6 separate regions of the Homo sapiens genome follow, and regions 2, 3, 4, 5 and 6 are each reported to be linked to region 1. The links are microRNA targets in miRTarBase. Many come from high-throughput screens and were not tested one by one. Region 1 holds a microRNA gene; each other region holds the end of a gene's coding sequence.

Evidence for each region. The annotated mature microRNA hsa-miR-8068 reads UGUUUGUUGUAAGGAUCGUUGU and lies in region 1 at 1,829-1,850, shown strand. An mRNA with a match to its seed (bases 2 to 7 or 8) in the 3' UTR can be bound and repressed. Matches are read on the target gene's strand: a 7mer-m8 pairs with bases 2 to 8, a 7mer-A1 pairs with bases 2 to 7 and ends in A, and an 8mer does both.
Region 2: the mRNA of POT1 is a reported target of hsa-miR-8068. Seed matches in the 3' UTR shown: 7mer-A1 at 1,169-1,175.
Region 3: the mRNA of FCHO2 is a reported target of hsa-miR-8068. Seed matches in the 3' UTR shown: 7mer-A1 at 1,404-1,410.
Region 4: miRTarBase lists CDH12 as a target of hsa-miR-8068. Seed matches in the 3' UTR shown: 7mer-A1 at 4,454-4,460.
Region 5: the mRNA of ENTR1 is a reported target of hsa-miR-8068. Seed matches in the 3' UTR shown: 8mer at 3,538-3,545.
Region 6: the mRNA of ADAT2 is a reported target of hsa-miR-8068. Seed matches in the 3' UTR shown: 7mer-m8 at 1,035-1,041 and 7mer-A1 at 762-768.

What each region holds. Positions count from the first base shown.
Region 1 is chr11:28,473,942-28,479,366 of GRCh38, reverse strand. MIR8068 (microRNA 8068) reads left to right here and starts at 1,819; the gene lies at 1,819-1,886. It also overlaps a transcript of METTL15 not described here.
Region 2 is chr7:124,819,106-124,824,530 of GRCh38, reverse strand. POT1 (protection of telomeres 1) reads left to right here. Exons shown (of 19, transcript NM_015450.3): 19 at 457-2,145. The coding sequence ends at 569. Among named protein-coding and RNA genes, the nearest start is that of LINC03043, 31 kb to the right of the region's middle.
Region 3 is chr5:73,086,813-73,092,237 of GRCh38, forward strand. FCHO2 (FCH and mu domain containing endocytic adaptor 2) reads left to right here. Exons shown (of 26, transcript NM_138782.3): 25 at 777-941; 26 at 1,256-3,710. The coding sequence ends at 1,278. Among named protein-coding and RNA genes, the nearest start is that of TMEM171, 31 kb to the right of the region's middle.
Region 4 is chr5:21,747,176-21,752,600 of GRCh38, forward strand. It overlaps CDH12 (cadherin 12), which reads right to left. Exons shown (of 15, transcript NM_004061.5): 15 at 3,498-5,061. The coding sequence ends at 4,562. Among named protein-coding and RNA genes, the nearest start is that of SNORA105A, 130 kb to the right of the region's middle.
Region 5 is chr9:136,398,858-136,404,282 of GRCh38, forward strand. ENTR1 (endosome associated trafficking regulator 1) reads right to left here. Exons shown (of 10, transcript NM_001039707.2): 9 at 5,198-5,337; 10 at 3,065-4,030. The coding sequence ends at 3,931. SNAPC4 (small nuclear RNA activating complex polypeptide 4) reads right to left here and starts at 1,313. Exons shown (of 24, transcript NM_003086.4): 1 at 1,277-1,313. RefSeq lists silencers at 971-1,080, 1,151-1,280, 1,351-1,560, 1,711-1,760 and an enhancer at 1,526-2,462.
Region 6 is chr6:143,424,969-143,430,393 of GRCh38, forward strand. ADAT2 (adenosine deaminase tRNA specific 2) reads right to left here. Exons shown (of 6, transcript NM_182503.3): 5 at 3,644-3,716; 6 at 1-3,538. The coding sequence ends at 3,495. Among named protein-coding and RNA genes, the nearest start is that of ADAT2, 23 kb to the right of the region's middle. RefSeq lists an enhancer at 2,501-2,570.

The DNA.
Region 1 (5,425 bases):
GTCACTTTTACATCACTCTTTTGGGTATCTGTCCTTCTTCCTCAACTTGTCCTACAAAACATTTGTGGACTGAAATTTTCACAAGGGCAGGGCTTCTATCTTTCTTATTCATTCTGTTAACACTAGCATCTGACATAGTCATGACATACAGTAGGCACTCAATAAATATTTATTTAAAGAATCAACAAATAAAACAAAATAGCAACAACCCTTTCCTTTATTCTTAGTTCAACTGATCATGGCTGGAATTTTATAACATTACAAAAGCAAACACACACACACACACACACACACACACACACACACACAAAGAGAAATAAGCAAAAAACTAGAGTTTTCAAAGTACAAGTTTACATTCTTATAGTAGTAGTAAGAACGCCTGCCAAATACATCTCTCTATTGTTTTCACATCAATCTGCACCTTAACCATGGGGCCTCCCTTGGCAGGTGCCATGTTGTTTTCTGCTTCCTAGGAGATAATGGAATTTAAGCTTTTTACAAGTCAAAAAAACATCAACACCAAAACTCCTTTCCATTCCAAGTCACTTATGGCCCCTTGGAACCTCCCAAAAACTAGAAGATCATTTGTAAAATAGCAATAATAGCATATTGATCTTTCTTTAAGTTGCCACTGTTGCTTACTGCTTCATGTTTTTTGTTTCTGGAGAAAGGGGAGGTGAATGAATACCAGGTGGTTACCCTGAGCATCCAGGAGCAAAGCAAGCCAAAGAATGCAAGAGATGTTCCCAGGCATCCCAAGCATCAAAAGCGGGGATACCAAATCTGCTGGCACATTTGAGACATAAAAAAGTTGGAGATAAAGACAAGAGGCTCTGGAGGAAGGTAACACTGAAATTTAGTAGATACAAACAATACAGACAGAAACCATGCAAGAGAGGTCAGATAATCACCACGATTGAGGCCACAGACTCGCCTAATATTTGTCTTCTGTTGTCTACTATCTGAGTGATGGGGTGAAAATTGTCTAATTTAAAGGCACGAAATCATGGTAGGCATAGACTCATAATCACCATCTCTGTGAGTGGTCTTTAGATTCATAGCTTTAGGATATAAACAGAGCTTGAATTCATAAAAACAGCATGGTCAACATTTTTACCAAGATAAGAGGAAATTTACTCCTTCATATGGTATCTCCTTAGGATTTACAGTTTATTTAATAACTAGAGGTTCCAGATTCTTCCAGATGGTCCTTTCTTTATCTGACTAAAGTTTTAAGATCATGGACATAGGTCTAAAATAACAAAATAAAATATAAAATAAAGTTTTATAGCTGGGGTATAAGAGAGTTTGGCCATGCTAATAGATAGATAAAGGATAAAACAATTTTGAAAAGAGAACTTAGGATCTGGTGGTAGTATGTGGCCAACAGAGACCACCAACATGTAAGAACCATATCTATATAGAATCAATTATCAGAGGATGCATTCTAAAATGGAAAGGAAAATTAAAAGCTAGCAGTAACTTGAGCTTAATGCTCAAAAAATACCATACAGAAAAATTTTAGGTTAAAAAACAAATAAATATTGAAGAAGAATTCAAGGATAATGAATGGCTCAAGATGAATATTAAAAACAATGGAAGGGCTGGATAAGTTGATAACGGCCTCAAGATTGACTCCATAAAATTATTTAAAATGAAATGAGCATTCTTATAATATAAAACACCCAATCTTTGGGTCTTTAAATAGACAGTGTATAGATTTTTTTCCAGGGATGCTATAAGGGAAATCCTTATATTGGATGAGGTAGGAAATGAAGAAGGCTATTTTATGTTAGTTGTGAGACAGAGTTCCATTCAGGCTAACTCATGTTTGTTGTAAGGATCGTTGTGGCAATACAGTTATCCTTACAACAAATACTTTGCCAGATATTCAAGAATAAAAATTGCAATATGCCCAGCACTTTGGGAGGCCAAGGAGGTGGATAACCTGAAGTCAGGGGTTCGAAACTAGCCTAGCCAACATGGCAAAACCCCATCTCTGCTGAAAAAAAACCCACAAAAATTAGCCAGGCATGGTGGTGCACACCTGTAGTCCCAGCTACTTGGGAGGCTGAGGCAGGAGAATTGCATGAACACAGGAGGCGGAGATTGCAGTGAGCCAAGATCGTGCCACTGCTCTCTAGCCTGGGTGAGACGCCATCTCAAAAAAAGAAAAGAAAATAAATTGCAATATGACCATACATAAAGAAACTGGAACAAAAAGTTATTCTGTATTTCTTGAAGCTCTAGACCTCAACAGCACAAGTCTGGGGATTTTAGTCACAGGCAGACTCCCATTAACGTGGCTAAGCACTATGCTACCCTCTCTTCCTGTTTCTCTTTCTGTCTCTTGCTTCTCCTATTACTACTTGACTTCTTTTTCAACCCCATTCTCAATTTATCGGTAATTTCTGCTGCTTCATAGTTTTAAATTACTCACAACTTTGCTCACTCATGTCTATTATGGTCCTTCTCTATTATCTCACTGCTCACAATATGATTTGTTCTACAGCACTAAGAAGTGCAGTACAGAAAGGTAACTGATTATCCCCTAAGAGTCATTGGTTGAACTTTTTTAGCACTAAGCTACACCATAGATCACTGGTTAGCTTAAGGTGTGCCTGAAGTCAGATCCTCACATCTGATACCAACATGTGACCAGGGTAGGATCCTGGGTCCTGTGGTAACAACATAGCATTCCAGGGCTTGCCCTTCTACATGGTCTGAAAGGAAATATAGTTTCTCTTAGGAAAGAACGAGGACATATTGATTAACCTGTTTAGAACAGTAGGAAGGAATAAAATGGAATAAATAAGCCTCTAAGGTCTGTCTCAACTCTCAGTACGTAATTCAGACCAATGGAAATTGGCTTGCAAGGAAGATGAATACAAATACCTCACAGCCAAGCTCAGAAAGGAAACTCATCAATAATACCAAATAAGAATTCTGGTGGTCTTGTTAGAGTCACCACTATTGCCTTATCTACCATCTGGGTCATTTCGACAACAACTCAACACTCAGAAAAATGAGGTTTTATCCATAAATGATAGAAAGCATTCCCTCTTCCCAGGGACCAAAATAAAGAGGCAATAATCAAACCCAGCAGCCTGATATTTCTGTCTGGTTAATATCTCAGACAGTGTGAAGAGGGGGACAATGGGCTGGGCTTGGCACATACTCTCACGCTGAGACTGCAAGCCAGGAATATTTTTCCTAGAAAGCAACCCAGTGGGGAGCCTCTGTGAGAGAGTCAAATATAAATTATTCATTTTCTGTTCTTTGTCTACTACCCCTAGCAAGCCTGGTTCTGCGGAAGCAAACAGAAGTCAGATGAAGGTATCATGACAGGGTGCTGTGCATTAAGCTCAGCTGAAGATCACTGTTTCCCAAAAAGTGTGCATGCCACAGAGGACTGCAGGCAGCCTAGGTGGTAGCAGGAGGAGAGGACAGTCACTGGTCTGATTGAGAGGCAGGCCCCCAAATTTGCCATTGCTCAGCCACTTAGTGGACAGGCAAATTCTTCAGTTCTGTGGAACTAAGTTTTATTAAATGTAAAAAGAGGGTAACTGAGTGTGATCTGGAAGGTTGGCTTTGGAAAAACATACGATTAAGGTTGAATTCCCTTTGGACCGCTCAGATTCCCTAGCTCAGGGGAATGCTGTAAGTAGAAGAAAATCTCAACTAGAGAACTGCAACCTTGGGAGCCTAAAAGATAACACTCTGAACAGAACATAACACTAGAGGCAGTGAAGAAATTTACTCTTGAAGAGTGAATACACCCTGTAGAAGATCTGGACCACCAATGGCAACACTGAAGTAGGGTACCAGGATGTGTCAAACCATGAAAACCATTTCTCAACAGCCACACCACGAGACCATGACCAGACAAATCATTTTCTAGTTTTCTATTTTCCTGAAGTTTAGAAATGGGGCTGGACTCTTTGGACTAAGTAAGTAGAAATCTTGGACAATAGATGGAGGGAAAATCTCAGAATAATTCTATGCTACCTGAATATTAAAAAAGAAAAAGAAGTGACTTCACACCACCAAGCTGGTGAAGAGGATCATGCAATTTTCATTTGATCATTTAGAGTATCAACATGAATTACCAACATGAAGCTTGGCTGTGAGCTTAGCTTCATGGTTTCCACTCACTGTGAGAAACTCAGTCCCTAATAGGGCCTCTAGCCTTCCATAGCTTCTTTCTAGTGGGTTTACCTTCCCTTTACACCTTCCAGAGCCTTTGTTCAAATCAACTCTTGCCCAGGTGAGTACAACTGCTTAACTGACCTGTAGGCGTCTTGCTTATCCAGATCCAGTTCAAATAACCACCTTTGGCTATCAAAACGATCTGATTAAATAAGAGAGAGAGAGGATTGAGGACCTCTGCTTCTTGGTCACCTGTATCACCAGCAAGTCAGGTTGTCTTTATGGCCTCCATGTGTTAAACATAGGGCACTTATCCTGAGACCTGGGAGGTTCAATGACCAAGTACCACCATTAGTAACTGCATGGGAGTTTAAAATAGTATTGAAACAACACACCATTCACCCTCACTTGGGTTATGTAGAGTCCACCCTTCATTATCTGGTCAAATCCCACATACAGGGAATATTTCTGTTAACAGCATTTTCAAACCAAATATGGACATTTGTCACAAAAATGTGATGTTTGTCTAAACTTTTGCACCATCCGCTCTTCTTTGGTGTGGGGCCTTATTAGGCTACATCATCCTTGAATACCTACAGATTAGACCAGGAGTCTTTTCAGTTTCATTTCTTAGTAACCTGCCATCCACTTTAAGACTGTCAGGCTGTCTGTGAATATTCTCCCAAAAAAGCTGGATTTTGCTGCTTGGGTCACCTTCAGCTATTTTTAGGAGCTTACTTTCTCATGAACACATATATATCCAAATTTATGAATATATATTTACTTCTATAGCATTTTGAGGGGGCTTGCTCATATTTTTCAACAATAGTGTTAGTGACCTATTTTACAGAGAGGCATTATCATTATTTCTTGGATTAAAGAAAGGAGAATTAAACATAGACACCTTAAATTAGTGTATATTTATCACAAGGGGGGAGGCCAGCATGAGAAAAATGGATATAAATATTTATAATAAATATTTTCTGTTATATAGACATATTTAATATGTATTAAATATTTGTAATAAATATTTTCTGTTATTAAGGATAGATTTATAAATATTTACATTTATACTTGTATATACTTATACATCTATAAGTATGTATATACATGTGTATTTGTGTGCATCTCTCCATGTACAAGATGAGGCAGTAGCTGCCTTGGTGCTCACTGCTACTGGGAGAATAGATAGGGAAACAACTGACATACTCTAGAGTCTTTCACAGAGGTAGAATAGAAGCATGAAGAGGAAATATCAATTCTGCCCTGGGGTATG
Region 2 (5,425 bases), not on the chromosome of region 1:
CATAATGATAGGAATTTGTGTTGATCTCTAACCAAGTTTAACTTGAATACCTTTATTTGTTGTCAGTTTTAATTTGTGTTAACTGTTTGGATTCTTTTGGATAGATTTCTAGAAGTAAGTCTTTATATCCAAAAGCATGGGCCTGGTAGACCCATTGTAACCACTATTTTAGATTTTTAAAATATATACCAACCATTTTGAAACCCAAGATGTACTCACTGTTACCTGCTTGTGGCAAAAAATTCAAATTAGTCACAATTGCTCCAAAACAATAACATGAATCTAGTATGTATTTTGAAGAGAGAATAATGTTAAATTTGGAAGGGACGTTTACTTACTTTTCAAGCCAAAATAAATGTTAATTTTTCTAGCTCAGTGGTAAGCTTAGGTACCTATTTCAGAGTTATTTATTTTGTTTTAATGGTTAAATCGCTTTTTTTGTTTTTGTTTTTGTAGATGCATATCCGTGGTTGGAATGCTTCATCAAGTCATACAATGTCACAAATGGAACAGATAATCAAATTTGCTATCAGATTTTTGACACCACAGTTGCAGAAGATGTAATCTAATATTGCCATCCAATTTAGCATACATAAAATGTTGCCACTCACCTTCCCTGTTTGAGCTTCTTTTCCTGACCTGAGTTTTGTATCAGCAATGTTGATGATGTTAGCATGGGTATGGGATTAGAAAATGTCCTTACCTTAAATCTCTTGGCTTTTACTGGGTGCAAGGTAAATAATGGCTATGGATTTTGTTTTGCTTTCTGTTTTGCTTTTGTACAAAGAGACCTGCTTAAACAAGTACTGCTGAGATAAGTGTCTGATCAAGCTACAGTGTACTTTAAGTAGAAATGGCAAAGTTGCTTTGTTGGGGTGCTGATACTGATGATTTTAGGATAAATTCATTTCTTTAAACTTGTAATACATGGTTTTATTGCTTGTTTCTCTCCAGGATAGTAGAGATTTCTCTATTTCACCTCAACCTAATAAAAGTGGTCAGATTTATAATGTTAATGACTTAATATTATCCTTTTCTAATAGTCTCATGTAAAATATGCCGCTATTACAACTTACAACTAATTGAATGAGATGTTAACTTAGTAAAATAGTTTGATTTTTACCTGACAGTGTTTGTCAAATTTAAAATCATGAATATTCAATTTTATACAAACATTTATATATATATATATAGATTTGTGTATGTTATTTGCCAAAGACAGATATAAATTACCTGGTTTAATATTAGTGAAGAATAAATAAGTGCACACATTTCAACTGTTTCATTTATTTGCCCTAAGTTGAGCTGAAAAATGATATGAGGCAAAGAATCGAAATAGGTGTGGCAATGCAGCAGATGTTTAGGGCTGTCTACATCCCAGGTACTGTGCTAAGCACTAAACATGTATTTGATCCTCACAGCAACCTATTTTTCCGATAAGAAATCTGAGGCTTGATTGATAAGCTGACTTGACTAAGTTCACACAGTTTGTAAAAGCTAGAGTCTGTGCCTTAATTCACATAATCTCTATTCAGAGCCTGTACTGTTAACCACTCAAGGATTCTGGAACAGAAGCTAACAGTTTTCTGCAACGAGTCTTTGACTTAAACATCTGAAATAACATTGGAAATAGATTATAAGAGGAGTCAGTGTGTTTTTCTATAGTTTCAAAATACTTTTAACATCTTATTGTCAAAAAGATTGGATAACTGACTTTCTTTGCTCATAATAACTCTAAATTCTAGTTCCTGAGTACATTAACACATCTTCTTTACCTAACTACCAATGTCCCCCATCATCGACTTATCAGCTTGTTTGAGACAATGAGAAAGACTGATTTTATTTTCAAGAATATAGACTCTTGGTTCAAAACATTTTCAGGAAAAATATTTTAAAACCCTACAGTTGAACAGGTGTGTTTCCGTGTTGATGATGTGCTCAGGATACAAAGGTGAAATAAACATTTTTTCTGCCTTCAGGAAGCCCTCAATCTAGAAGAGTAGAGGTCCAAAGGTGCCATATGTTCACACTGTGAGCCTGCAAGATCTCCACGTTAACAAAGGAAAACTCTTCCTATGAATCTTCATGATGATAGGCCATGTCTCTTCTTATTTTTGTTTTAAATAAACATCCACCTTATCATGATTTCTTTTGGTTTATTGTGGGGTTTTGTCCTTGTCTTTTTAAAAAAATTTTCAGTTTTTAGCAAGAATTATTCCATCAACATCTAGTGTTTCTCTAGAGATGATGTATGCACTTTATGCTAATCAGGAACCCAGAGAGGAGAATTTTATTTCTGGAGCAACAACTAAATGGTAGTTCATTGTGCCCCAATTTGATCCCTGCCCCTTTCTGTAAACACTGATAGAATCTTCCTGTCAGATTTTAAATTACACAAATTTAAGAAAGAAGTTTGTGTACAGACTCACCCTCAGTTTCCACTTTCTGCAGCTTCCATTTTTTAAGACACTACTGGATTGACTCATGCTGTCCCTGTATTGTTCTTAGAATGTATGTCTTAGAAAAATCTGAGACAGTCCATTATTCTTTATCTGGATGTAGCAATGAGAAACACACTACTTACAGGCTTTTTCTGTGGCCACCTTCAATTATACTGCTGTATTTGAGGGAACTATACATGCCAAGATACAATGTATCATTCCTCATTTCTTTTTACCCCTGCTCATGCTTTAAGTTGGAAATTGTTTCTAAATAATTATAGAAAGACTGATGTTGATGGTCTAGAAGAAGCTGACTATACCTCTGTCTACCTAAAAAAGTCTCTTCACCCATTTGGGTACTGGCTGCCCAGATTTCAAATTGGTGTAGATCCTGTGCCTTAGCTACTTGGAGGTAACAGAAAAGGACCAAAATCTTTTTCCTGCCTACTTCCCAGCTGACTATGCAGTCCTGTTTTAGATATCAAAGCATGAATTTGTCACTACGTGTGACTCTGAATCCAGACAATTTTCTTCTATACTTTCTAGAAGCTTTTCTTGGGATCTGGAAAGGCTAAAAACTCTTTTGATTATTTTCAATGTTGTTTTAAATTTGACCGTATATTTCATCAAGTTTTGTTTTTATCTAGACTTTTTTTAATAGAAGTAAGAATTTGAAACAAATATAGGGTCTATAAACTTGAACTGATTCCTGCTCCAATTAGTACCCAGGAAGAAACCACTTTTAACAATACAGTGTATAATTTTTCAGATTGTTCTTTCTAAGAACATGTGAGCATGCATATGTGTGTATGTATATACACACACATATATATTTTAGCATCATGTTAAATAGTTGTGCAACTTTTGTCACTTTATATAGACAACTGTATTTTTTCATGTTGATACATACAGGGAGAAACTCATTGCTTATAATTACTCAGCATAAGTAACTTTCAATGTGTAATTCTCTGATAATTTTACTATTTCTGTTGTGGTTTTTTGTGTAAGTATTCTATTTTTTATTGTGCCAGTTTGGGATTTTATATGTTTACAAAAATGTATTCTTGTTATCTGCTTTGTTACCACATAGTTATTCATGATAATGTGTTTTACTTATTATTTTAGTCTGTATTTTGTCTGGTGTTATTTCCCCTTTAAATGCATCTGGAAGCCCAGAAACCTAGTTTCACTATGTCCTCTGGAGGTTTTTAGGTGATAAGAGTTTTGGAGACCTATACAGACTTCCAATACAGGATTAGGACTCAGCCATGACATAGTTGCTTTAAATTATTATTTCATGCTTTGAAGAATTTATTGTGAAACGAATGTTAATGTAAGAAAAAAGAACACCTTCTGTAATGCTTTTCATTAGGAAATGCAGACTCTGTGAAGGCTATGATAAGTCACACTAAAGTTCTAGAACATTATTTTAGGGGAAATATAAATATCTCTTCCTTTCTTGGCCCCTCGGAATCTCTGGATAGTGTCAACCCTACCCATTCCAGGAAAAAGGGACCTAGTCAGCTAGTAAAATCTGGGCATGATGACCTGTCTTCTCTCTGGTACTTGGAATGGGTATCTAAACTCACTAAGCAGGCACTCATAGGTGCTCTCAGGTATGTGAGATCCTATCTTCTTTTGGCAGTCGGGAAATTAGTAGTGCTATGTTTTTGTTTTTGTTTTGTTTTTTCACTATTGTGATTTAAGCTGTTAGGAAATTTGAGATCAGCTAGGGATTCTAAGTGATGATCATCTTACATGGAGATAAATAAATGTCCCTTCCATCAGGACTGCATTTGATGGGTTGAAAATTATTGGGCATCAATTACAATGACAAAGATAATGTATCAGTGTATGTGGGAGCTCTCCCTCACATGGCCAATTGGTGAAACATGGATAGTGCAGAGATTCCTCGGCTATTTTTCGACTCTAGCAACATCTTAATGAATTTCTGGTATTTTTCCTTGAGATCTAGGCCACAAAGTCACAGTCACATTGGTAGTGTGTGTGTGTGTGTGTGTGTGTGCTTTTATTTTCTTTGTGTTCACTTTGCAGGGTACTATGTTGGAATTTACCTAAAAATCTAGTCCACAACTACCAAAGAAAGCATTTTCAACTTTTGTGAAACTTTCTTTTATTTCATCTGTTTGTTCATAGTATTTTAAAGATTTGGAGCATGTGTGTGTTAAAAACCTTAAGCTTCCTATCATCTATTAAACAAATATGGTGCAGTTCCTAAACATGTACCTTTTTATATACAACCTTGCTTTTTTTCCCTATAACTTCAAAATGGTTTTTCCCTTCTTTGAAATTGGAACTCCCAGATAAAAGCCCTTTTGTTGTTACACAAACACTATTCCTTAGCCGACTTCTGTCCTCCATTAGAAGGCAGTCTTTCTAGAATTTAAAGTCTCTTGCCAAGTTTAGCTACTTCGTAAGTGACATTCTGTCCCAAGCTTTTATAATAGTTAATACATACATAAATAGCTAATGCAAGTCTCTCATAGCACTACAAGGAAGGTAAGTCATTTTAAAATCAAAAGTATTAACCTGTGGAGTCAAGTGAAAACATCGCTTGCAGCAGGTAGGCATGGCTGTGGTTTTAGTTTTGTATAGGAAATCTTATATGTTTAATCTTCATTAGAAAAGGTTCTAAAAAAATAAACACCTTTAAATTTTGGAATCATTAAATATTTTTGTACAATAAAAGGTTAAATGGAGATTAAGACAAAGAATACAAAGTACAAAATGATATGTAAAAGTTATTACATACCTCTGTATTCATTTATTACTCATACAGTGTCTGTATCCAAAAAGGATTTGCTGCGATTTACAATAAAAGACAAACATGAGACACAGGACACACCTTTAGAAACAGGGCAAGAAGGGCCAAAGAGAGAAGTTTAAGATAATTTAAAAAATCTAATCCAAGGAATGCTACAGGTTTGGAACAAAACTTACTGAAACAGCAGTGTTCCCTGACA
Region 3 (5,425 bases), not on the chromosome of region 1:
TCTACCTGTATCCTGTTCTCCTGCTAATCTGATATAGATGCTATTTCGTTAAATGCATCATGCTCTGTCTCTGTATCTTTGGTAACTTCTGCCTAAAATACACACCATCATCCCCACCACCATTTATAATTTTCAGCTGAGATAGGTGCTTTTGTGCCTGTAGCTCCTCAGAGCTCCTTTACAGCATTTATAATATTCATTATAATTATTGGTTTACTGTTCCTGCCATTCCATTAGACTGAAGTATACTGAATAAATGGTGATGATACTAGAAACAAAACACCTCAGAAATACCTACTTGGCATTATGTTAGACCAGTAAAACTTTAAAAAGAAAAGTGAATAGAAAATAGCAATGTTATACAACTCTTCCCAACCGTAGTTACCTTTCCATCTTTACTTCTTCTACTACTCAGTAGTCATTTCTTTTTTAACTTTATGCCACCTATATCCCTCCTAGGGTTTTTCTCTGGGCTGTCCTCAGTTACTTCCTTCTTCTCTTTTGACTCGCCTCAACATGCATATAGCATAGGAGTCCAGTAGTTAACATCTCTGAAGATTAGTATTGAGTCAAAGAAAAGCATGGGTTATTTACTTAATGAAAATTGATATTCACTAAAAAATATGAGATTTGGAAACAGGATAATAGTTTGTTTACTGTGCACATCTAATGAATGTAGCACAGGACTGATGTAGTTTAGCTTACTTGCTCATTTGATTCTATTTTGTTTGAAATGTATTTTACCCTGTGTAAGTGCTTTATTCTTTTCTTTGTAGGTTCTGGGTCCCTCCGAGCAAAATTTGATCTTTCAGAAGGACCTAGTAAACCCACGACACTTGCAGTACAATTCCTCAGCGAGGGAAGTACCCTTTCAGGAGTAGATTTCGAACTTGTGGGCACTGGCTATAGGCTTTCCTTAATAAAGAAGCGGTTTGCTACTGGTAAGTTAGGAGATTTCAAACTTTTTAATGTACATGGGAAACATTTGTATTCTAACAGTTATTAAAAAACTGTCAAGCAATTTATAATCTAAAGACATGGAAATTTTTTCTTTAACCCTTGGTACAAGGTGCCAGGTAGAGACACACCTGGGAGAGAGTTCTTACGGTCAGTATAGCTGAACACCTGTTATCTGATTCTAATGTACTGTAAATAGCAGATGGGAACTAGAGTTTTGTATTGGTAACCACAGTGGAAAATGTCCTTAGAGTGCATTTGAAATTGTAATTGCAAAGGTCTGCTTGGCGTTTTTCAGGACGATACCTGGCGGATTGTTGATGGACCTGGGAAAGTGATGTGGCTTCAGGGATTACAAACCTGCCATTCTGCATTATCTGTTCTTTCCAAACACTATTTTAACTTGTATGATGTCTTTCAAACTTAGACATATTTGAGAGCTGACTACAAACATTAAATCGCACTTTTAAAGTGAGTCATTGAAATAAATAGTACTGAAATGATTCTCTATGTTGTAAATGATCAACTACAATATTCAGGAAGCACATTTATTCAGATTCTCAGTAAAAATGAAGTTTTTGTAGGATTAATTTTTAAATTATTTCCAGTGTCTATGTTGAAAAAAAGGGTTATAGTGTAATATCAGGCCTAAAGTTTCAGAAGAGCAAGCACAAAGTAATTTAGCTTTCCATACATTTTTAGAGTCAGAGATAACTTTGAAATTTCATAAGTTTGATATTCAGTGGATACAAATAGAACATGAATTCTAAGTTTTGGGTAATGTTAACTCAGAACACTTAATCAAATTGAGCTATGTGCCATAAGGTAATCAGACCAGAGTCCAAGTTGTATGCAAAAAATCTATAATTTGATTCTCATAAACATATTAATAAAGTATAAGTGATGTTTTATATGATTTTTAAAAAAAATTCTCAAGTGCAATGTGTTTTAAAATAAGCTTGCAAATGACAGCAGAGACATTTACTTCTGCAGTTAGTTAACTTTATAGGAGTTGTGATTTTTTTGATGAATTAATGCTGTAGATTTAATTTATTTTTATATGGAATTGCATAATGTGTGCCTTTTAAAACAATAACAAAAACCAGAGATGTGCCTATACAATTTGTGTTCATTAATGTGCCTCACTTTTTTTCTCAGTCTGAATCTTCTGTTCAGAATCTTACAGTGATCAAGCATTTTTATAAGATATTTGCAATTTTTGTAAATATTTTTGGCCTGCAACTGGGAAGGGGATTCAGAGTCATAAAGCCTAACTTAAGAATCCTGGCTCACTTCTTTGGTGATACACTGTAGCCACTAGAAAGAGAAATAAACCCAATGGCATGTGTTTACAGGAAGAAAGATTACCTTCAGATACTTGACATTAACCTCATCAAAAGTGTGTGAATTTTAAAACAAATTCTAAAAAAACTATAGTGCTAAATTGGTAACTGGTATTTTAACTCTCAATTTAGCATTTTCCTTGATACTTTATCATTGAAAATTTATGCATTTATTTACTGATTGTGTTGTGAACATGAGTTTTATGGTATTTTGTGAGGGATGCATTTTTTAAAAGATTAATTTTGGAAACAGAAGGAGAAGCACTGCCATTTGTTTTTATTTCAACAATTGGAAAAATTACCAATTTGTACATTTTAATTATTCAATTTCTACTTTGTAAAAATAGGGAAATTATTTGAAGTGATATATTTGGTTAAACATTTCTAAAAATAAACTACCAATACTAAATAGTAAGAAACCTAACTTTAGTAGCAAATCTTGATTAATTGAAGAAATAAAATATTTCGGATAAGGTTTCATAATTTACAAATGGGAATTTCATTTATAATAATAAATATGAGTGTCCTTTATTTGCCTAGTAGAAGTGATAAATTGTGTTATATATGATAATTTATATAAAACCACTAATTGTTCCGTTAAGCTTCACAGAAAATAAAACCTCTATTACTAGACATTTATGTAACATCTTGCTGTACTAAATACAGCAGAAAATCTACTCTTTAGCAATATATAACACAGTATATGCTTTTTTATATATTCAATGTTAGCCCAAGTCTGAATTTACATTTGACTAAAGCAGCACATAAGATAATTTGCTAAAATGCTAATCTTTACTAAATAGTGAGCTAAATTAGAATTTCTAACTCTTATATTGTGCTCTTTTAAATGCCAATTACAGTCCCTTACTGGAATTCTAACTGTAATTTGCTTTGCAATCAAACTGCTTTTAGGGCAGCCAATATTTTATTATTGGAATTCAGACACTGTTCTTACCGTGTTTGTTTTTAATCAAATATTACCTAAAAATGTACAAATTAGTGAAATGGTTAAACTTCTGCACTTTCTTAGTTACCACAGTCTTCATACCAAGTATTGGGTACAGGTTACAATTTTGAAGCCATATGAGTTTATATTGATTTTTTTTTTCCATTTAAAAATCCACTAATGGTGTAAAAGAGACCAGTAGATTTTCAATGGGAAATGTACCTAGCAAGCTGGTTCTTGCTTATATATAGTGATAAACTTTGTAGCTGCCTCTTTAACCAAGAATTTGTAAACACAACTCTAATAAATGTGAGTTTTAAAGGATTGTTATTTACTACTTTGGATTGTAATTAGAACAATGCACATCTGTCTTCCAAGATTTTGTAAATATTTTTGATTTTTTTCATTAAATGTAAATTTTACATAAAAGTTGTGCTCTTAATAAACATGTAATATATAATTTATCAATTGGTTTATGTGTCTTTGTACTTGATAGTAATAGCTATATCATAATGTTAGGACAAGGCAAGCTGGCCAAGTAATTGGTTTTTAACTTTGTACTACTGTTTGAACAGGCGTACAGATCGAACTGTTATTTATTGGTTATATAGAAAGCTTCATTTGGAGTATATCCCAAAGTGTCAAAATTGTTTAACAAGGGATTATTTTTAATATATTTTAAGATATATTTAAATTGATGTTAAATTTTTGCAGACTTTCTTCCTAACCAGTTGCTCAGGAACACAGTCTCAGACAGTTCAAAAATCATAATGTTCCAAAGAATTAGTTAAGACAATCAAGCCTCCCAAAATGGTAAATTTAGGAAGGAGCAAAAGAAGGAAATTAGAAAAGAAAGAATTTATCCTAACTATTGAAAATTTTGGGCTGGGTGCAGTGGCGCATTACTGTAATCCCAGCACTTTGGAAGGTCGAGGTGGGCAGACCACATGAGGTCAGGAGTTCGAGATCAGCCTGGCCAACATGGTGAAACCCCAACTCTACCAAAAAATATAAAAATTAGCTGGGCATGGTGACGTATGCCTGTAGTCCCAGCTACTCGGGATGCTGAGGTAGGAGAAGTGCTTGAACACGGGAGGTGGAGGTTGCCGTGAGCCAAGATTGTGCCAGAGCACTCCAGCCTGGGTGACCAAGTGAGACCCTGTCTGAAAAAAAGAAAAAATGTTGCCAATCTGTGTTAAAAAAGGAACAGCTTAATTTATCTAGGTAGGCCAGGGCAGAGGAACCTGTGGAAAGATCTGATAGCACTCACCATTCATACCATATGCCCATCGTTTTCTTCCTTTTTCCTCTTCATCCCATTCCCACCTCTGTTAGACTAAATGATGCTAGCTGCTGCAATAGCTAAGCACAATACTTACTACATTGCTCTTATCACAGTCATAAGTAGGTTTGAGGAGGAGTTCTGCTCCATATAGTAATTCAGGGGCCCAGGCTCTTCCCATTCTGTGATTCTGCTTAAAATCTTCATTTGGCCGGCAGATGAAGAAAAAGCAAAGATTAGATGGGAGTTTTTATGGGCCAGGCCCAGAAGAATTGGCATCATCACTTCTGACCATATTCCATGAGCCAGGATTTGATCTTGTGGCTCCAACCAACTGCAAAAAAAGATGGGAAATGTAGTTTGGTTATGTGCCCAGGAAGAAAACGGGGTTTTGATAAACACAGAGTAAACCTCTGCCATGTACCCCACCCCTGCTCCATTTTGTTATTTTCTTTGTTCCTTTTTCCTAATGTGCATTTAATGGTTTCAGTGGCTCTCAGTATTAAAGGTTTTTTCCATGATTTCTTACTGTATGTAGCTATTTTATCCATATTTTTAAATATATATAATTATTTCCATACGCCTCCTAATGATCGTTTCTGAATGAACATTTGTGATAACTCAGAAACCACTGCTTATCTTTTTAGCATGAGTGTTTTATCTGTCAGTAATGTTTTTAGCCTCAAGTAACAGAAACAGAACTAAGAATGGTTTAAACCAGCAGTACCAACCTTTTTGGCACCAGGGACCAGTTTTGTGGAAGACAATTTTTCCATGGATGAAGCGGTGTGGGGAGATAGTTTCAGGATGAAACTGTTCCACTCAGATCATCAGTCATTAGTTAGATTCTCATAAGGAGCGTACAACTTAGATCCCTCACATGCGCAATTCACCATA
Region 4 (5,425 bases), not on the chromosome of region 1:
AAAAAAACTCCTCTTGACTCGTCCATGTGAAATTTTATAACAATAAGGATAAAAAAAAGAAGACCATTATGCAAAAAACCATATCACATAGAAAAGAATGACATGGTCACTATGCTATCTCATCACCTCAGTTGGATGCTAAAATATGAGAGAAACTGTTTTCAGAATATTGAGGAAATCATTTAAAAAACATAATTCAAATGAGAATTATGTACCTAGCCAAACTACAGATTGATGAGGCAAATAAATAAATAAATAAATAAATAAATAAATAAATAAATTCAAGGAAGGAGTAATTTATGAAAATAACACACACCTACCACCACATACACATGTCCCTTCCTTTAGTAACCAAACTCAGGCTGTTTATTGACATTTAATAAACTCTTTCTTCAGGTCTAGTAATAACTTAGGGGTCACTTCAAATATAAGGCCTGCGTATTGACATGTGGTTTTAGGAATTCCCATTTTTAATAAAATAGTTACTGAAATTTTCCAAGGATTTCTGTGGGCAATAGCACATCCCTTCTAATTTTTTCTTCCTACCATTTGTTTATCCTGTTTGGCTCAAGATCTGGGCCTAACTATTTTAACACTTTTTTCTCTCTTTTCATATGTACACCTCTGCTTTTCAATCTTGCAGAAGAATTTTGACATTTGCACCTAGGAAATGTTTGTCTGGCTCCTCTTATGTTGTAGAAGCGGTGAGTTTTAATGTATAACCAATGCAATCCATAGTTCAAAGATTCCTAATTCTTATATTATGCTTAAAGGTTCTCTGTGATTCTCATAATTATATGTAGTCAATATTTAAATGATTTAGTGAACTTCATAAGATTGTCACTAGAATTTCAGAATCAAGACATTTTAGAGGAAATTTGTACAACACTAAGTTCAACAAATTAATTTTGCCAAAGAAAACAGAACACTGGGAGGCTAAGGAGCTTGACCCATATTTCTGGTGAGAATTTGGTACAAAAGTAATTTTAGATCATTTCTAGCATATCACATCGTTTCACTCATATGTGTTGATCTAATACTTCATTGAATATAATTAAATGTAACATTTAAAAATAGATATAAGTAACACACATATGTTACATATAATACATACATACATACTTCTATAAAAGTAAACATGCAAGGCAATAACAAAATTATGGTTTAATTATTATTAATAGTCAAAATTCCCCATATAAATTCTAAACATTTTTATAGTGCTTAATGCTTAAATGAAGGTCAGTAATTTTGTTATTATAAATAAAACAGAACCCAACATGTTATAAGTATTGAAATATTAGGCCTAGTGTGATGTCATAGCATAAAATGTATCCCATAATATTTATATTTACGAGCACCAAAGACCTCTTTTCCCCATATCTCTCCTCTGGTGACCCATTGTATCTGAAATCATTTCTATTCATTTTTTTCCATATATTTGGGTTTTTTTGTGTGTGTTTTAAACCAAGCCAGTTTTTAAAAAAGAAAATATGATGAACACCTGTGTGATTGATATGGGCCGAATTGTGTCTCTTCAAAAATCATATGTTGAAGTCCTAAATCCCAGCAACTCACAATGTGATTATATTTGGAGACAGAGCCTTTATAGAGGTAATCAAGATAAAAAGAGCTATTATGGGTGGGTCCTAATACAGTATAACTGGCATCTTTTTTTTGTTTTTGTTTGTTTGTTTGTTGGTTTTGAGAGAGAGTCTCACTCTATTGCCGAGGCTGGAATGCAGTGGTGACAACTCAGCTCACTGCAACCTCTGCCCCCTGGGTTTTAAGCAATTCTGTCTGCCTCAGCCTCTGGACTAGCTGGGATTACAGGTGCCTGTCACCACGCCCAGCTAATTTTTGTGTTTTTGGTAGAGACAGGGTTTCGCCATGTTGGCCAGGCTGGTCTTGAACTCCTGACCTCAGGTGATCCATGTACCTTGGCCTCCCAAAGTGCTGGGATTACAGGCACCGCGCCCGGCCTGGTGTATTTTATAAGAAGAGCAATTAGGACATGAGTAAGCACAGAGGGAGTACCATGTGAACACACAGAGAGAAGACGGCCATGGGCAAGCCAAGGAGGGACTCCCAGGAGAAATCAACTCTGTCAACACCTTGATCTTGGATGTTTTGCCTCCAGAATTGTGAGAAAATACATTTCGGTTAAGTCACTCAGTCTGTGATATTTTGTTATGGCAGACCTAGCAAAGGAATGCAGTGGTGTGGCAAAAATAAAAGCCGGATGTACTCAAAAGTATTTAACAGTTTGGTGAAAATAAGATCTACTTATTTCATATTTTTGTTTAGCACCTCAGCCATGAAGTTTGAAATGACCTGCCCCTCACAAGTTTTCTCCATGCTACCGTTGCTTCTGCCAAATGATCTCATGCAGAGGCAGTTAGATTTCCTAGCAAAATGCAAAATGCAGCAATTCCTGATGGGAATCTTTTTGTCTATCAGAAGTAATCTTGCATAGTAAGCTTCTTCAGGGGTTATATATCAATCCATAGCAAATCATGTTGCTAAGGCAAATCCCAAAATTGTCCTAATTTTTCTCTCTAGGATGGTTATGGCATCACCAGCTTTTAAAACATGTTATGTAAATACTTTCCCAAACATACTATAAATTATCACACTACATCAATATTATAATGCAGTTCTTGGGATAGACAAAGGTAAAATTGGGATGAGATGGAAGAAAACAAGTTCAACAGCCATTCCTGAGAGGGAGAAAATGAGAATATGCAACTGGGAGATATCAACAAAGAAATGGGGAATGTGAATTCAAATGCCCCCATTGCCACAGCATAGTGAGTAGTTGGATCATTTTAAAGGATGTATTTATAAATGAATAACGGTGAATATGATTTTCTTGTGTTGTCTATATTTCTGCCTGTTTTTGTCATGTGTAAATTTTTAGCTTCAAAACCTTGCAAATATTAAATATATCTATAAGTATTTCATAAACCCAGCTAGATAGTGACCATATCTTCAGGATGGACCCATAAGCAACTTTAATTTTTTTCATATATATAGTGACAATATTAGAGTAGTCACTTAAGTAGTTATCATATTCATATAAAATATATTATTTTGTAATTAGTTTGCATCTTTTTATGTTTTCCACGCTAGTGTGCAATCCGCTTGAAAGCAATGTATGTGAGTTTAGTTTACTAATGCGCTTATAAAATCTAATATTACTTAGAAATTTGCATCATTACACGGAATTTGTAAGGGATAATTTACATTAAGATTTTTGTAGATGAGAGAACAAAGAGGTAACTATGAGCTCCAATATAATAATGGTGCTCACAAAGTTGAAGTCCATGTAAGTAAAGTAAGTATATCAGCTGCCTGAAATTGAATTTACGTTCATTTTAGGATTCAGTCATTGGTTTGAACTTTTTTAAGTCCCTGATTTTTTATTTTTTTCAATAATGTATAACAAATATTTTTAGACATCTTATAAATCCATCCTCTATTATTTGATATGTATTTTATTTTTGCTGCTCATCAAAGAATCACTAGATTGTAAGAAACTCTGAGAAACTGTATAATGAATTTCTCTTTCCATGCTTAAATGAATGGCACTTTTTTCTTCTAAGAATTTTCATAGAAACACAACTTGAAATTACATCTATGACTAAAAGCTGAATCTGGTGACTGTTAAAACCAATTTTCCACACACCAGTACAATATTAAGCAAAACCAATATTTATTTTAATGTGTAATTTGAGCCCTGAGGCCTCTCTTTATAAAGAGGAATATTTTTTCTTTTTTTTCTTTCTTTTTTTTTTGGAAAAGAAAGTAACATTTTAATGAACAGCTTTAATGTGAACTAATGTTAAGATCAAACATTGTTTCTAGAATTTGGGACTTACATATTGAACTTGATATTTTCATATTTATTTCAATTTTCTGAAAGGATAGGATAAACAAATACGTTTTAGCATACAGTTTAAAAAAGAAAAAGAAAACCTTTTGAATTAGAAGAAGGTGGAGATCAGAAAGTGTTCTTCTTTTGTTCTCAAAAGGAATGAGGAGAGTCAGAGTGTCGCTATTGCTTCTTGACATAAAGACGGTGTCTTTGTTTTATGTCTTTATCTCTGAATCCCGCAATACCATCACAGCAGAGTGTACTGTACACCACTTTAAATGATAAGAGTTTCAATAGGCACTTTAGTGGAATTAAGAAAAATCTAACACTCTTCCACCGTGATGCCACATAGCTATCTTCGTTCTAGGTTGTCATGTCAGTAAATTGTATTGAATAGGCCTGAGCTTGTCTCAGTGTGATTGTGAAAAAACAAAACAACAAAACAAAGCAAGTACACATTATAGGATGTATCTCTTGTTGGCAGAATAAACCAAAACTGACAATATGATTAATTTAGTAACTTACTAGAAACCAGGTAATCAAAGGAATCTTGTCCCAGAGTGTGTGTGTGTGTGTGTGTGTTTGTGTGTGTGTGTGTGTGTGAGAGAGATTTCTATTAATATTTGTGTTTCTTTTTCTTTTTTAAAAATCTCCCCTCTCGGTTGTATTTTAGCCTCCACGACTCCCTTAAGTGACTTTATCAGGGTTATAACTCTCTTCTTCGCCAAACATGTCTGCCAAGACTTTAAAGCGGGGTCCCCAGTCTGTCAGATAGTCATAGTCCTGGTCGGCTTCTGTGGTGAGAGAGTCTATAGAGCTGAGGGACTCTGCCACGGACCCACTCCCTTCGTAGGCATATGTGGCCAGTGAATCGTATGGTGGGGCAGTTGGATCCACATCATTTTCCTGTAGCCTTTGATGAATGAAATCCCTTATGTCTGTGTTATCTTCCATGGGTGGTCTCTGACGAGGTAAACAGAGAGAGTCTGGTTTTATATCCCTGCGAATTTTGTTCTCCTCAATCACTTTTGGGTTTCTCAGAGCCCCGATGTCGAAAGCCTGGGTATCTTCCTCCCCACCTCCTTCATCATCGTAATGGATGACGTTGTCTCTGATGTCTTCTTTAGAGGTCATCAGGGTGTCTTTTTTCTTCTGCCTTCGCAGTGCTACATACAGTACAACTATGGCTGGAACAAGACAAAAATTGCAATTTGAGAATAGAAAGCAGATAGGTCATTTCATCTCTCCATAAAAATTAAAAATGATTAGGGGTGGCTGAGTTTCGTGAATGACCTCCTGTTACTTTCATAGTAAACATACCATAATCAATAGGATCATACATATGTTTAAATTTTGAAATTGTTAACTAACAAGAAACCATAGCAAAGTTATTCACAAAATGAAACAAGTATGTCTTTATATTAAAGTATTTTAGGGTCTGGTAAAAGTGTGTGTTGCAACAAAAGAAAAAAGGAAATAGTAGTTCTTCCACTCATACAGAAAATTGTAAGAATATAAGAAAACTTGAATATTATCATCCATAAATAAGAC
Region 5 (5,425 bases), not on the chromosome of region 1:
CCTGCTCTCCCATGACACAGAGCCGGACCACAGAGGGCATTTGAGAAACGTTCACAGAGACACACACTGAGACTGCCCAGGTGGCAGGCACTAACAGCATGGTTGGGAAGGAAGCTCCCAAAGGGAAGGCTGGCTGTTCTCTGTACATCCAGAACAACGCCTGGAACGTGGCAGTGCCTGACACTAACAAATGTTTGTCAAGCTTTTTTCTTAGGAACTGTGGTCCAGGAAGTCTGAAGGGAGAAGGACGCTAGAGAGAGAGTGGGAGAATGAAACATTAGCAGAGAAAATCTAAAGGAATCACTAGCACAGACCCGGGAGCCCAAAACACCCAACAACAAAGAGAAACGCCCTCCCCCGTCCTTGGCGTGGCTCTCCCTGCTGGAGGCTGACTGGGGCCCTGCCCAACTGGAACAAAACCAAAGCATCCACCCGCGAGCACCGTTAGCCGCATCAGCAGCCCAGGTCCCCTCACTCCTTCACAAAGCCCCTTGTTTATGCCCGAAATGCTTGTGAACCTGTAAACTCAGTTAACAGCCGGCCAGAGGCAGAGCTGGCAGCGACCGCAGGCTGGTTCAGCGCCTCCGGGCCGGCGGAGACGCTTTCCTCTGGAAGCCTCACACGAGGCTGCTGCCTCCCCCTCCCCGTGTCGCTCAGGTGAGCAATGATCAGCAGGAAGGAGGTCAAAGTCACACGTGCTGAGCCACTGACATCAGGGGCTGTCCCTCTCCCCGCACCCCTCTCCCAAGGGCTGGTCATGAGGGCTGCCCACCAAGACGGAGCGCAGCAGGCGGTCCCTCCAGCCCCAGCTGCGGGGACGCCACCCAGACTCGGCTGGGCCCAGGGAACCCCAGGATGCGCCAGGACGATGGGCGTTTAGGCACTGGCTTGGGAGACAGACCCGGCCCAGGCCCAGTTCCGCCTCCTGCTCGCTGCGTGAACTGGGGAAACCCCCTCCGAGGCTCGGCCACCGCGGAATCGCCGGCGCAGTCCCCGAGACGCACGCGGGCGCCCTGCAGCCGGGGCCGCCCCGCCGGAGCCTCCTCGGAGCCCGCAGCCCGCTCCCAGCCGAGGGGCTCCCAGGGCCAGAATCCCCGCGCGCCCAGGCTCGGCCGGACGGGGGCCACGCCGGGCCTCAGTTTCCCCGACTTTGGGCGCTGCCCCGCCCCCGTCCCGGGCCTCGGCTATCCGCTCCTCGGGACAGCGCCCCCTCCACGGGGAGAGCCCTGAAGCTGCCGACGCCACCCGCGCCTCACCTGCTGGGCGCACACCTTACCTGGCCGCGCGGACCCCGCCGTCGCCCGGGCGACTGCAGACTCGACGCTTCCGGCGGCTGCAGAACAAGAGCGCCGCGCGCCGGAAGTCCCGCCTCCTGAGGCGCGGGGCACGCCGGGACGGCCGCTGCGGCCTGCCGGGACTAGAGAGGCGAACGGCTCGATGCTGCCCTCGCGCGGCCGCCCTGGGGGCCGCCTCCGCGCGCTCTGGAGGGGCGCGGGTGGACGCGGGACCTCAAGGCAGGGGACAGACAGGGACAGGCACCCGGCCACCTGGTCACGATCCGGAAGACCGGCCCTTACTGGCTGTGACCTTCGGCCATCGCTGGACCTCTCTGTGCTTGTTTCATCCTCTGTTAACGGACATGTTGGGGTTTGGTTAAGCAACGGATGAGAAAGTCTACGTGAAAGGCTTTTTCCCCAGCCTGCCCTGCATGCTCAGGATCGCCGAGGCCAGGCCGATCTCCAGGCACGTGCAGGAGACTGAGGCCAGAGGGTGGGGGCCCGCACCACACAAACTCGCTTCCCTGGTCACCTGTGCACACCCTCTGGGGTCTCCTGGCCTGGAGAGCTGCCCCGGGGCCCTCCCCTAAGTGGGCATTCATTCCTTCAGGAACGTGCCAGGGCTAACTCGGCCGGGAGCTGGGCAGGGGCCTACAGTTCCTGGCTCCTGAGAGCTTCTAAGTATCGGTGCTGCAAAGACATCCTGGGCCCAGCCAGTTGAGGGGGCCTCCACTCCAGCCTGGGGTGAGCTAGGGGCATCAGCTGGAGAACTATAAAGAGGGTTTGCCCTGCCTACCTAGGAGGTGGGCTTTTGGTGGCAAAGGGCTAGGCCCAGGTGAGGCCAAACTGGGAGCTAGGGATTGGCAAGAAACAGATGGAGGGGATGGAACCAGGCGGCTGGGGGCTCCTCGAGCGCCTCGTTTCAGTCCCTGCATCGGGCTTGAAATCTGGAGGCAGAAGGCAGGCACTAAATACCGCGCCACAAATTGTATTTTTAAACTTCTTACTATCAAACGCTTCAAACACAGACATCAAAAGAGAGGGGTGCGCAAAACCCACATGCCCATCCCCACCGCGCTTCCCTGGGCCCCACCTGCTCCATGAGCTGCTGGCATGAGGGCCAGGGGACCACCCCACTTCACACGCATCTGGTGGATGGGACCCGCCTGGCGATCTGGCCTTTGTGACCCCCACCCCATCAAATGCTGTCTCTCCCAAAGGGCCTCAGGGAAGGCCTGTGGCCTGAGGCATCCTCCCCAGATGCCCCCATCCTGCTGCTACAGGGCTCCCAGAGCTGCCTATACACTCAGAACCTCATTCCGGCACTTCCCAACCACAGCACCCTGTCTCAAGTCAGCTCTGCCAACAGAATCCAGAGCCTGCTTTCACCAACCAGCAGGAGCAGGAGGCGCATAGGGCTACGCAGCAGGACCGCTCCACAGTGACTGCTGGAAAGCTCTGGCCTTCACCTGTAGCTAAGGCTAGGGGTCTAGCAATTCAGACGCCTTGTTTGAAAAATTCAACCACATGATCCGAAAAGATGATCCAATGCTAGAATCCAGTCTGTCCAGCTCTGAAACGTGCAGCTGCGTGACTCACACGTCCATCACGTGTGGGTCCCAGTGGTCAGGCCCAGGCAGCAGTGGTCTGAGTCTGCCCCTAACCCCAAGGGCTGAGGACCTGGAGAGAATCTGCCAGCACAAGGCACCAGTTAGGGCAAGAGCAAGTGAGGTGTGGAAGCCCACGGCGTTCTCCAAGGACTGGCTAAGTCAGCAGAGAAGAGACAGTGCGGTGAACTACAGAATTTATTAAATAAGAAAGCTATCAATTGGAACAGGAGGAAAAAAAAGTTTTAAAAAAAATCTATAGGAAAATAGTCAAAAAAGCATTTAGTGCTCATCGCCGTCCCTCTGAGGGGGGCCGTCAGAAAGGCAACTGGGACCTGACAGACCCGGGCACATACTTGAAATTCCTGAATTCTAACCTGCATTGTACAAAATGCCACTTGAAACGTCCACCAGAACCCCCAGCCAAAGAGGCACATCTGGACAGCTTCACAGCACGGAACGTGTGACCTTGGTCCCCGTGGGTCCCGGAGGAGGACAGCAGCAGCCACGCGGTGGCCCCTGCGCACTCAGGCCATGACTGCAGGGACCACCCACTGGGGCCACAAGAGTGACCCGGGAGCCAGAGGGAGCCCTGAGCATCGGCGGAAGGCACAGGTCCCTGCCCGGGGTGGCCATCTCAGAGGCACATTTAGTGTTTGTTCTACTTATGAAATCAAGGACAACCAATTGTACTTATCTTACAACTGATGTTCTGGGATGGGACTGGAAAACATTGATTCCAGAACCACTCTTTTTCTTAAAATCACTGGCTTTTATGACAATGTCTTCCAAGAGCTCATTAGAATCTATAAGATCGCAGGAATTTCGCCAAGAAGGGCTGCATAGAAACCACAGAGACAACTCGGCCAGGGCTGCTCCCATTGTGGTGGCCAAGAACTGGCTGAGGGCACGACACTGGACTCTTGCGATCAACACTTTACTCTGGGTGAAGACTGCATATTTAAGGACACAACTGCACATTTAGATCGAGCGGTGGTGACCTCAGGGTATACACGGAGCTTCATGCTGAGAACACCCAGGGGTCCTCAAGAGTCTTCCTCCTCGTCTTTAACTTCAGAAATTCTGTCTATAGATTTAAGGATTTCGGCAACAAGATTCAGTGTCTCAGCTCCGGAAACCAGTTGCCTGAAAACAAGCATGGATATCAGGATGGGTGGCAGCAGCTACTCAGCAGCAACAGGGTTCTGGGGGGAGAAAGGGGAGGGGTTGGTAGGGGGAAAAAGGGAGGGGTTCCAAGGGGTAGGGAAAGGGGAGAGGTTCTGAGTGGGAGGAAGGCGAGGGTTTCCAGGGGGAAGAATGGGGAGGGTTTCCACAGGGGGTGGGGGGCAGAAAGGGGAGGGGTTGGTAGGCAGAAAAAGGGGAGAGGTTCTGAGGGGGAGAAAGGGGAGGAATTCCGGGGGTGGGGGTGGGGAAGGAAGGGGAGGGTTTCCAGAGCGGGGAGGGATTCCACAGGGGAAGGGTTCTGGCGGGGAGAAAGGTAAGGGGTTCCAGGGAGAAAGGGACAGAATTCTGGGGGGAGAAACAGAAGGGGTCCCAGGGAGCAAGGGGTGGGGTTTGCCGGGGGGAGAAAGGGACAGGGTTCCAGGGAGCAAGGGGTGGGGTTTGCCGGGGGAGAAAGGGACAGGGTCCCAGGGAGCAAGGGGTGGGGTTTGCCGGGGAAGAAAGGGACAGGGTTCCTGGGAGCAAGGGGTGGGGTTTGCCGGGGGAAGAAAGGGACAGGGTTCCTGGGAGAAAGGGAGGGGCTGGGGGAGAACCACAGGTTTTCCACTCCTAGCTCCTCTTGGAGGAGACCCACACCTGACTTCACAGGAGACGGCTCCCTTGTTCACAGGGAGTGCTCTGGGGGCCAACACCGCCCTGCAGAGCTCAGCCCAATGGGTGGCAGACACTCACCACTGTCACAGTCATGGTGGCTGGCGTGTCCCCAGCCAGGCACAGCAGTAAGGGCCTTCTGGGAAGTGGCTTTTTCAGCAGGAGGGAAACCCCCACTATTTCCTTTATTCAGAGCTTCAGCGCCCACATGGGGTGGGGCTGAGGTTCAGTGCAGGGTGCTGTGGCTGTCTGCACCTCCCAGGTGGGATCAGACACTGCGAGGCAGGTTAGAAAGCCTGTGGTCTGTCCACACAGTGACCCAGAGAGCTAACAGGACCACTGAGCACGCGTCCCTCCCTGCAGCTCCCTGGTCCTCCAGCCACGGTGCCATCAGCCTGGGCCCCCACCCAGGATCACTGACGACCACTCCAATCTCACCCCTTTCCCCGCCAGGCTTCCCGGTGCCTCCCAGGCACTCACTTGATGGAAGCCTGTGCACTGTTCATGACCACCCGGAGGTTCTGCAGGGCCACGTCGGCGTTCTGCTTCACCACGGTCAGGCTGGCACCCTGGCCGCACCGCAGGGCTTCATTCTCTCGCTGGAAGTTGGAGACCTGCGCCTGGGGGGACGGTTACGGCTAAGGACAGAGCAGCTCCGAGGCAACCCGGCTGAAAGTCACCACCTGGCGAGGCGAGGGCTTACCCGTG
Region 6 (5,425 bases), not on the chromosome of region 1:
ATGACCAAAATTGACATCACCTTGGTGTGACGGCCTTTGTGTGCCTCCAGATGTGATATCCTGTGAGGAACTTAACATCAACCAGCACCTGAATCTAATCACAAGAAAATATCAAATAAATTTAAAACAAGGACCATTCTATTATTTAAAAAAAGAAGAAGAAAACAGAAAGGAGGCAAAATGACTGTATTATTTAAAAATGTCAATGTCATAAAAGACAAAGAAAGCCAGTGAAAATGTTCTAGACTAAAAGAAGCTAAAGGCAGACCGGTGCAGTGGCTCACGTCTATAATCCCAGTGCTTTGGGAGGCCAAGGAAGGAGGATTGCTTCAGCCTAGGAGTTCAAGACCAGCCTGGGCAACATAGTGAGACCTTGTCTCTACAAAAAAAAAAAAAAAAAAAAATTAGGTGTGGTGACATGAGTCTGTGGTCCCAGCTACTCAGGAGGCTGAGGAGGAAGGATTGCTTGAGCCAGGTTGAGGCTGCAGTGAGCTGTGATCATGCCACTGGACGACAGAGTGAGACCTATCTCAAAAAAAAAAAAAAAAAAGAAAAAGCTGGATTCAAGACAAGTAAATGTAATGCTGGACCCTAGACTGGACCTGGGATTATAGGGTAGTGGGAGAACTTCTTTACAGGACATTATTGGGTCAGCTGACAAAACTGTAATACAAATGATAGATTCAAGTATATCAATGTTAAATTTACTTAAGTCAATAACTATACTGAAGCATTTCGGGGTAAAGGGCCATGGTGTGTTGTGTTTGTGTGTGTGTGTGTGTGTGTGTGTGTGTGTGTGTGTGTGTGTGTATTTTATATATATATACTTTTCCCAGTAAAAAGTTTAAAGAAAAATTAAGAGTTCTTGCCTACACTGAAGCTCTTGGCCATCTATTTTCTCTCCATGATACTCCAAATACAACACAGGAAGAGATGGTTGTGCCAAGTAACAAGAAAGCACAAAGATATTTTAACATGATCTTTTATCAGTGATTGAAGCCTACCAAAGCATTACATACCACCCATTCTCCACAGTTTGTTGCAAAGACCAGCAAACACTGGATAACTCTAGCAGCTTCTAAATGTAATCATTTCCCCCTAATTTCTCTCAACAGGGCAGTGATTCTAAAACCTTTTTGTATCTCACCACTTTCAGAACTATTTTGTACACAAAACAAGTCTTTCAGCTGGTGTCTTGGACAGGCACTATCAGTATCAATCAATGGAATTCAAGCTGTTGAACTAGGACATCTTAATATTTTAACCCGTGTCTAAGTAGCTGGGGAATGTGGTACTCAGGAAGCTGAATGACCTCAACATATATCCATAATTCCTCACTGTCACTTGGAAATTGCTAGCAGAATTCCATAGAGCTAATGTCTATGACACCCTCAGTGGTCCTGCCCTCCAATCTGCAGTATGCCATATTAATGATTTTCTCCCAAAGCGATGGAGGGAACTGTGCCCCAGTCCAAACATTTAGGACAGATTTTCGATAGGTTAATTACTGAAGAGGGAACCAAAAAGATGGTAAACCACAATTAAATTGTTCAGCTATGCTTCAGAATCAGGAAACACTACTTATCCATCATTCTCCAAAACAGCAAAGACGGAACATATGTATATTGTTAAGTCTTTTCTATCCTTCCCTGTCTATCACTTTATTATTTCCTTCATTCTTTTAGTAGCGACAGTCTCTGGGCTAGAATGCTCATATACTATTTTCGGCTTTGGCTTTTTGTCCTAGATAGTCTTCTTATTCACTTTTCCCCAAATTTCAATCAGTAATTTCATTTAGCAAATGTTTACCAAGAACCTACTGGACATAAGATGCTCAGCCAGACTTACTGGGTGGTACTCTAGAGAGGCAAAACTCCAGGTTGGTTGTCCTACAAATAATCCCCAAGAAAATGATATGAACACAATAAATGCAATGAAATCTGCTTGCAGGAAAGCATAAGAAGCCAGAAATGAATTACGACCAACTGCAAAAAGGAACAAACTAGTAGAAGCACTAAAATTCAATGAGAAGATAATTTTTAAAGTGGATGAAATTGAAGGTGCATGTAACATTATCACAGATTTAAAATCATGCATATTCTCCATAAAACTTTTCAAATGCAGTTAAACACACACACACACACACACACACACACACACACACACAAAACCAAGCAATTATAAGTCCTCTGAAGCATGTAACTGTGATTAGCTGCTACTCTCAGCAATATAAAAATACTTTCACCACAATTACATTCCAGCCTGTAATGTAATTCAAAACAAACAAGTCAGAGACATCGCTCAAATGACAGAACCAACAAATACAGATGCTTTGCATCAAGGAAATGAATCTACTGAAGAAATGCAACTGAGGAGCAGCAGCCCCTCCAGGGCCTGGAGCTGAGCTTCTGGTGGAACGGCGAGGCCCCCTTCTGGGCAGAGGCACACAGTGCGCCCAGAGGGCTGTGCAAAGCTGCCCTGTAGTCATGGAGGTGAACTGGGGACTTCCTGCTGTGGATACCCTTTCCAGTGTTGTGTTCAAAATTTTACATTTTAGATTTTAAATTTATTATATGGATTATAAAAGAAATAACCATTTGTTTCAGATTAAATTGATCATTCTATTTTTCAGTCAGCATTCTCACCACCAAATGGCACCTATCCCCTTTACCCTGTGTTCCTTTTGCTTTTTGCCATAACTCTTATTGTCCTCCAATAAACTGTGTAATCTATCATATCCATCTCCCCTTGCTAGAATATAAGCTCCATGAGGGTGGGATAATTTGGTTTTTTGCTCAATAACAATTGTCCCATTTATGTCTTTATCTTTTAAGACTATTCATCTTCAAATAAGACATAAATAAGGTTTTATTATAGCAATATGCTATAATTTTTAAGTGACAACTCAAGCACTTGTTTTAAAAGTATGCATTTTTTCTAAATGCTTTATAAAAGCAAAGTCTTTTCTAAGGACCATATAATTATGGTCTCTATATACACAACTTATATACAATTTAGAGAGAAGTCACAGCCCCCAGTGCCCTGGAAGAACATCGTAGCTGCAAAAAATGAAGAATCTGATTCTGAAATGCCAGTCCTGGAGAAGGTGTTCTCAGGGTGGCAAACTGCAGTCCAAACACACTCCAGGTCCCTGGGTCTGGCCACACATTCTCTAAGAAGTCAGCACTTGCCTGGACTGGGCACTTGTGGCTAGAAGGGTATGCACTACTTGCTAATTTCTAAAACCTCAAACCTTAATTTTCCCCCATCTTAAAATGGGAATCAGCTTCTGGAAAAGCTAATAACTGTTTACAATTGTCAGACTTCTAAAAAGTGCTAATTTGTTCCCTTAACAGAGCAAATGATGAGAGACACCATTTTCCTGCAGATTAAAAACAATATATAAACATATGATTCAACGATGTCAACAGCTTTCAGTCTATGAATCTTGTCCAGGTCACTTTGGGTCACTTGGTTCTTTCATCAGAACATGTTCAAGATTTCTGACATTCCTTTTTCCGAACTTTCGATTTTGGTGCTGTGAAAAGAATAGAAAAGAAAAAGAAAATGAAGAGGTAAGCTCATAGCAGATTCTCTTTGTATGGATTTAAGGGAAGGACATTATCCACAACAGAAAACTGACCATTTGGATTTTCTTGTTTGTAGAAGGTCTTTAACATTTCCACTGCTTCCTCAGCCCGATATCCAGGGATACACTGATGGAATGAGAAAGTTGAGAATAAACATAGGCCTATGAAAATGTGTGCTGTATCCCATAAAAACAACATATATATACATGATTATGTAAACAGATTTCAGATGTTAATAAACTTTGGGGATATTAGTAACATGGGTAAGGAGGTACACTTCCAAAAGATGTTTGATATATCATCTTTTTCATTACTCCCAATCAACTGTTATTAGGCATCACTCCCAATCAACTGTTATTCATCCATTAACTATTATAGAAGTTACCAGCTTTGTGATCTTGGGTTAGGCACTTAAACTCTCCATGCCTTATTTATACAATGCTGGCAATAATAGCACTTACTTCAGGGGATTTTGTGAGGATTAAGTGAGATAATACCTGTTAAATACCAGGCACATCATAAGTGCTCATTAAGCATTAGTTATTTTTATCTGCTCCTATTTACTAGTGGTCCATTAAGCATTCCATGCTATAGAGCTAGGGTTGGCAAATTATACTTGGTGGACCAAATCTGTTCCATAGCTGAGAACTGTGAGCTAAGAATGGTTTTTATATCTTAAAAGCTTTGTTAAAGAAAAAAAAAGACTAGGTGACAGAGATGTAAGCGGCTCACAAAGGGTGAAATATTTACTAGTTAACCCTTTGCAGAAAAAGTTTATCAACCCTTGCTACAGAGGATTTTAAAAAATAAAATACAGCTTGTTCTATCTTTAGCATCTAACTGGGGAAAAGAAATCATAACATGTGAAAGAATAAATAAGAAATTGTGCTAACAGTAAGGAGTGTTATATGAAATATTACCTGAAGAACATGAAACTTGAACTTGCCTTAGAGATAGAGAATATTTAAAGAGGCTAAGCAGAGCATTTCAGGGAAAGGGCAAGAAGAAGCCTGGGTTGTGTGTGAGGAAATCAGCTGACAGAGGAGGAGACTATTAAGGAAGCATAAGGAAAGAAAGACAAAAAATTGGGGTAAAAATATGTACGGCTTTGAAAGCTTGTCAGAAGAGTTTGGACTTAAAACCAAGCACCCTTCTGAAGTGCATGAAGTGACACAATGAGCATCTGGAAGGAAGGAGCCAGAAAGCATAGGCACAGAGGACAGGAGGACCAGCTACTGTGAGATGCTGTTCAGAACGAACCTCCCATTCTCCTGTGTCTTCAGTCTGCCCTTGCCTGGGCCTCCGACACCTGCATAAACCTTCGCCATAACAAATAACCTTCCATCCACCCTGTCCCGTCAAAGGCTGACACCCTGCTCCTGCCTTCACTCCTCAGTGGCCTCATCTTCACTGGCTTGAGTTCCCAGCACTTCACTGAGTCTGCCCTCTCAGAAATCCCCAGGTCCCTACTGACCAAAACACTTGCCTCCTTTCAGATTCCTCAACTCTGCAGTCCTGGAGGCAACTGGCCACACCTGCTCTGTCTGACCGCTCTTGCCTCCCTTGGCTTCTCAGCATTTTACCATCCTAACCACTGCCAGCCAGTCCCGTCACAGCTGCCCCCTGCTTCCTGCTGTGTTAAGTGCTGGAGCTCCCCAGAGGTCCCCCTCCACTCCACTCGCACACTCAGAGCCCTCTCCTCTTACGTGGGATGAGAGCAGTGGTTCTCAACCATTGCTGCTCAGGAGAACCAGTTGGAACTCTCTGGAAACACAGCACTGTTGGCCCCCTGCCTTCTGATTCAGATGGTCTGGGGCAGGGACTGAGCAGAGTCA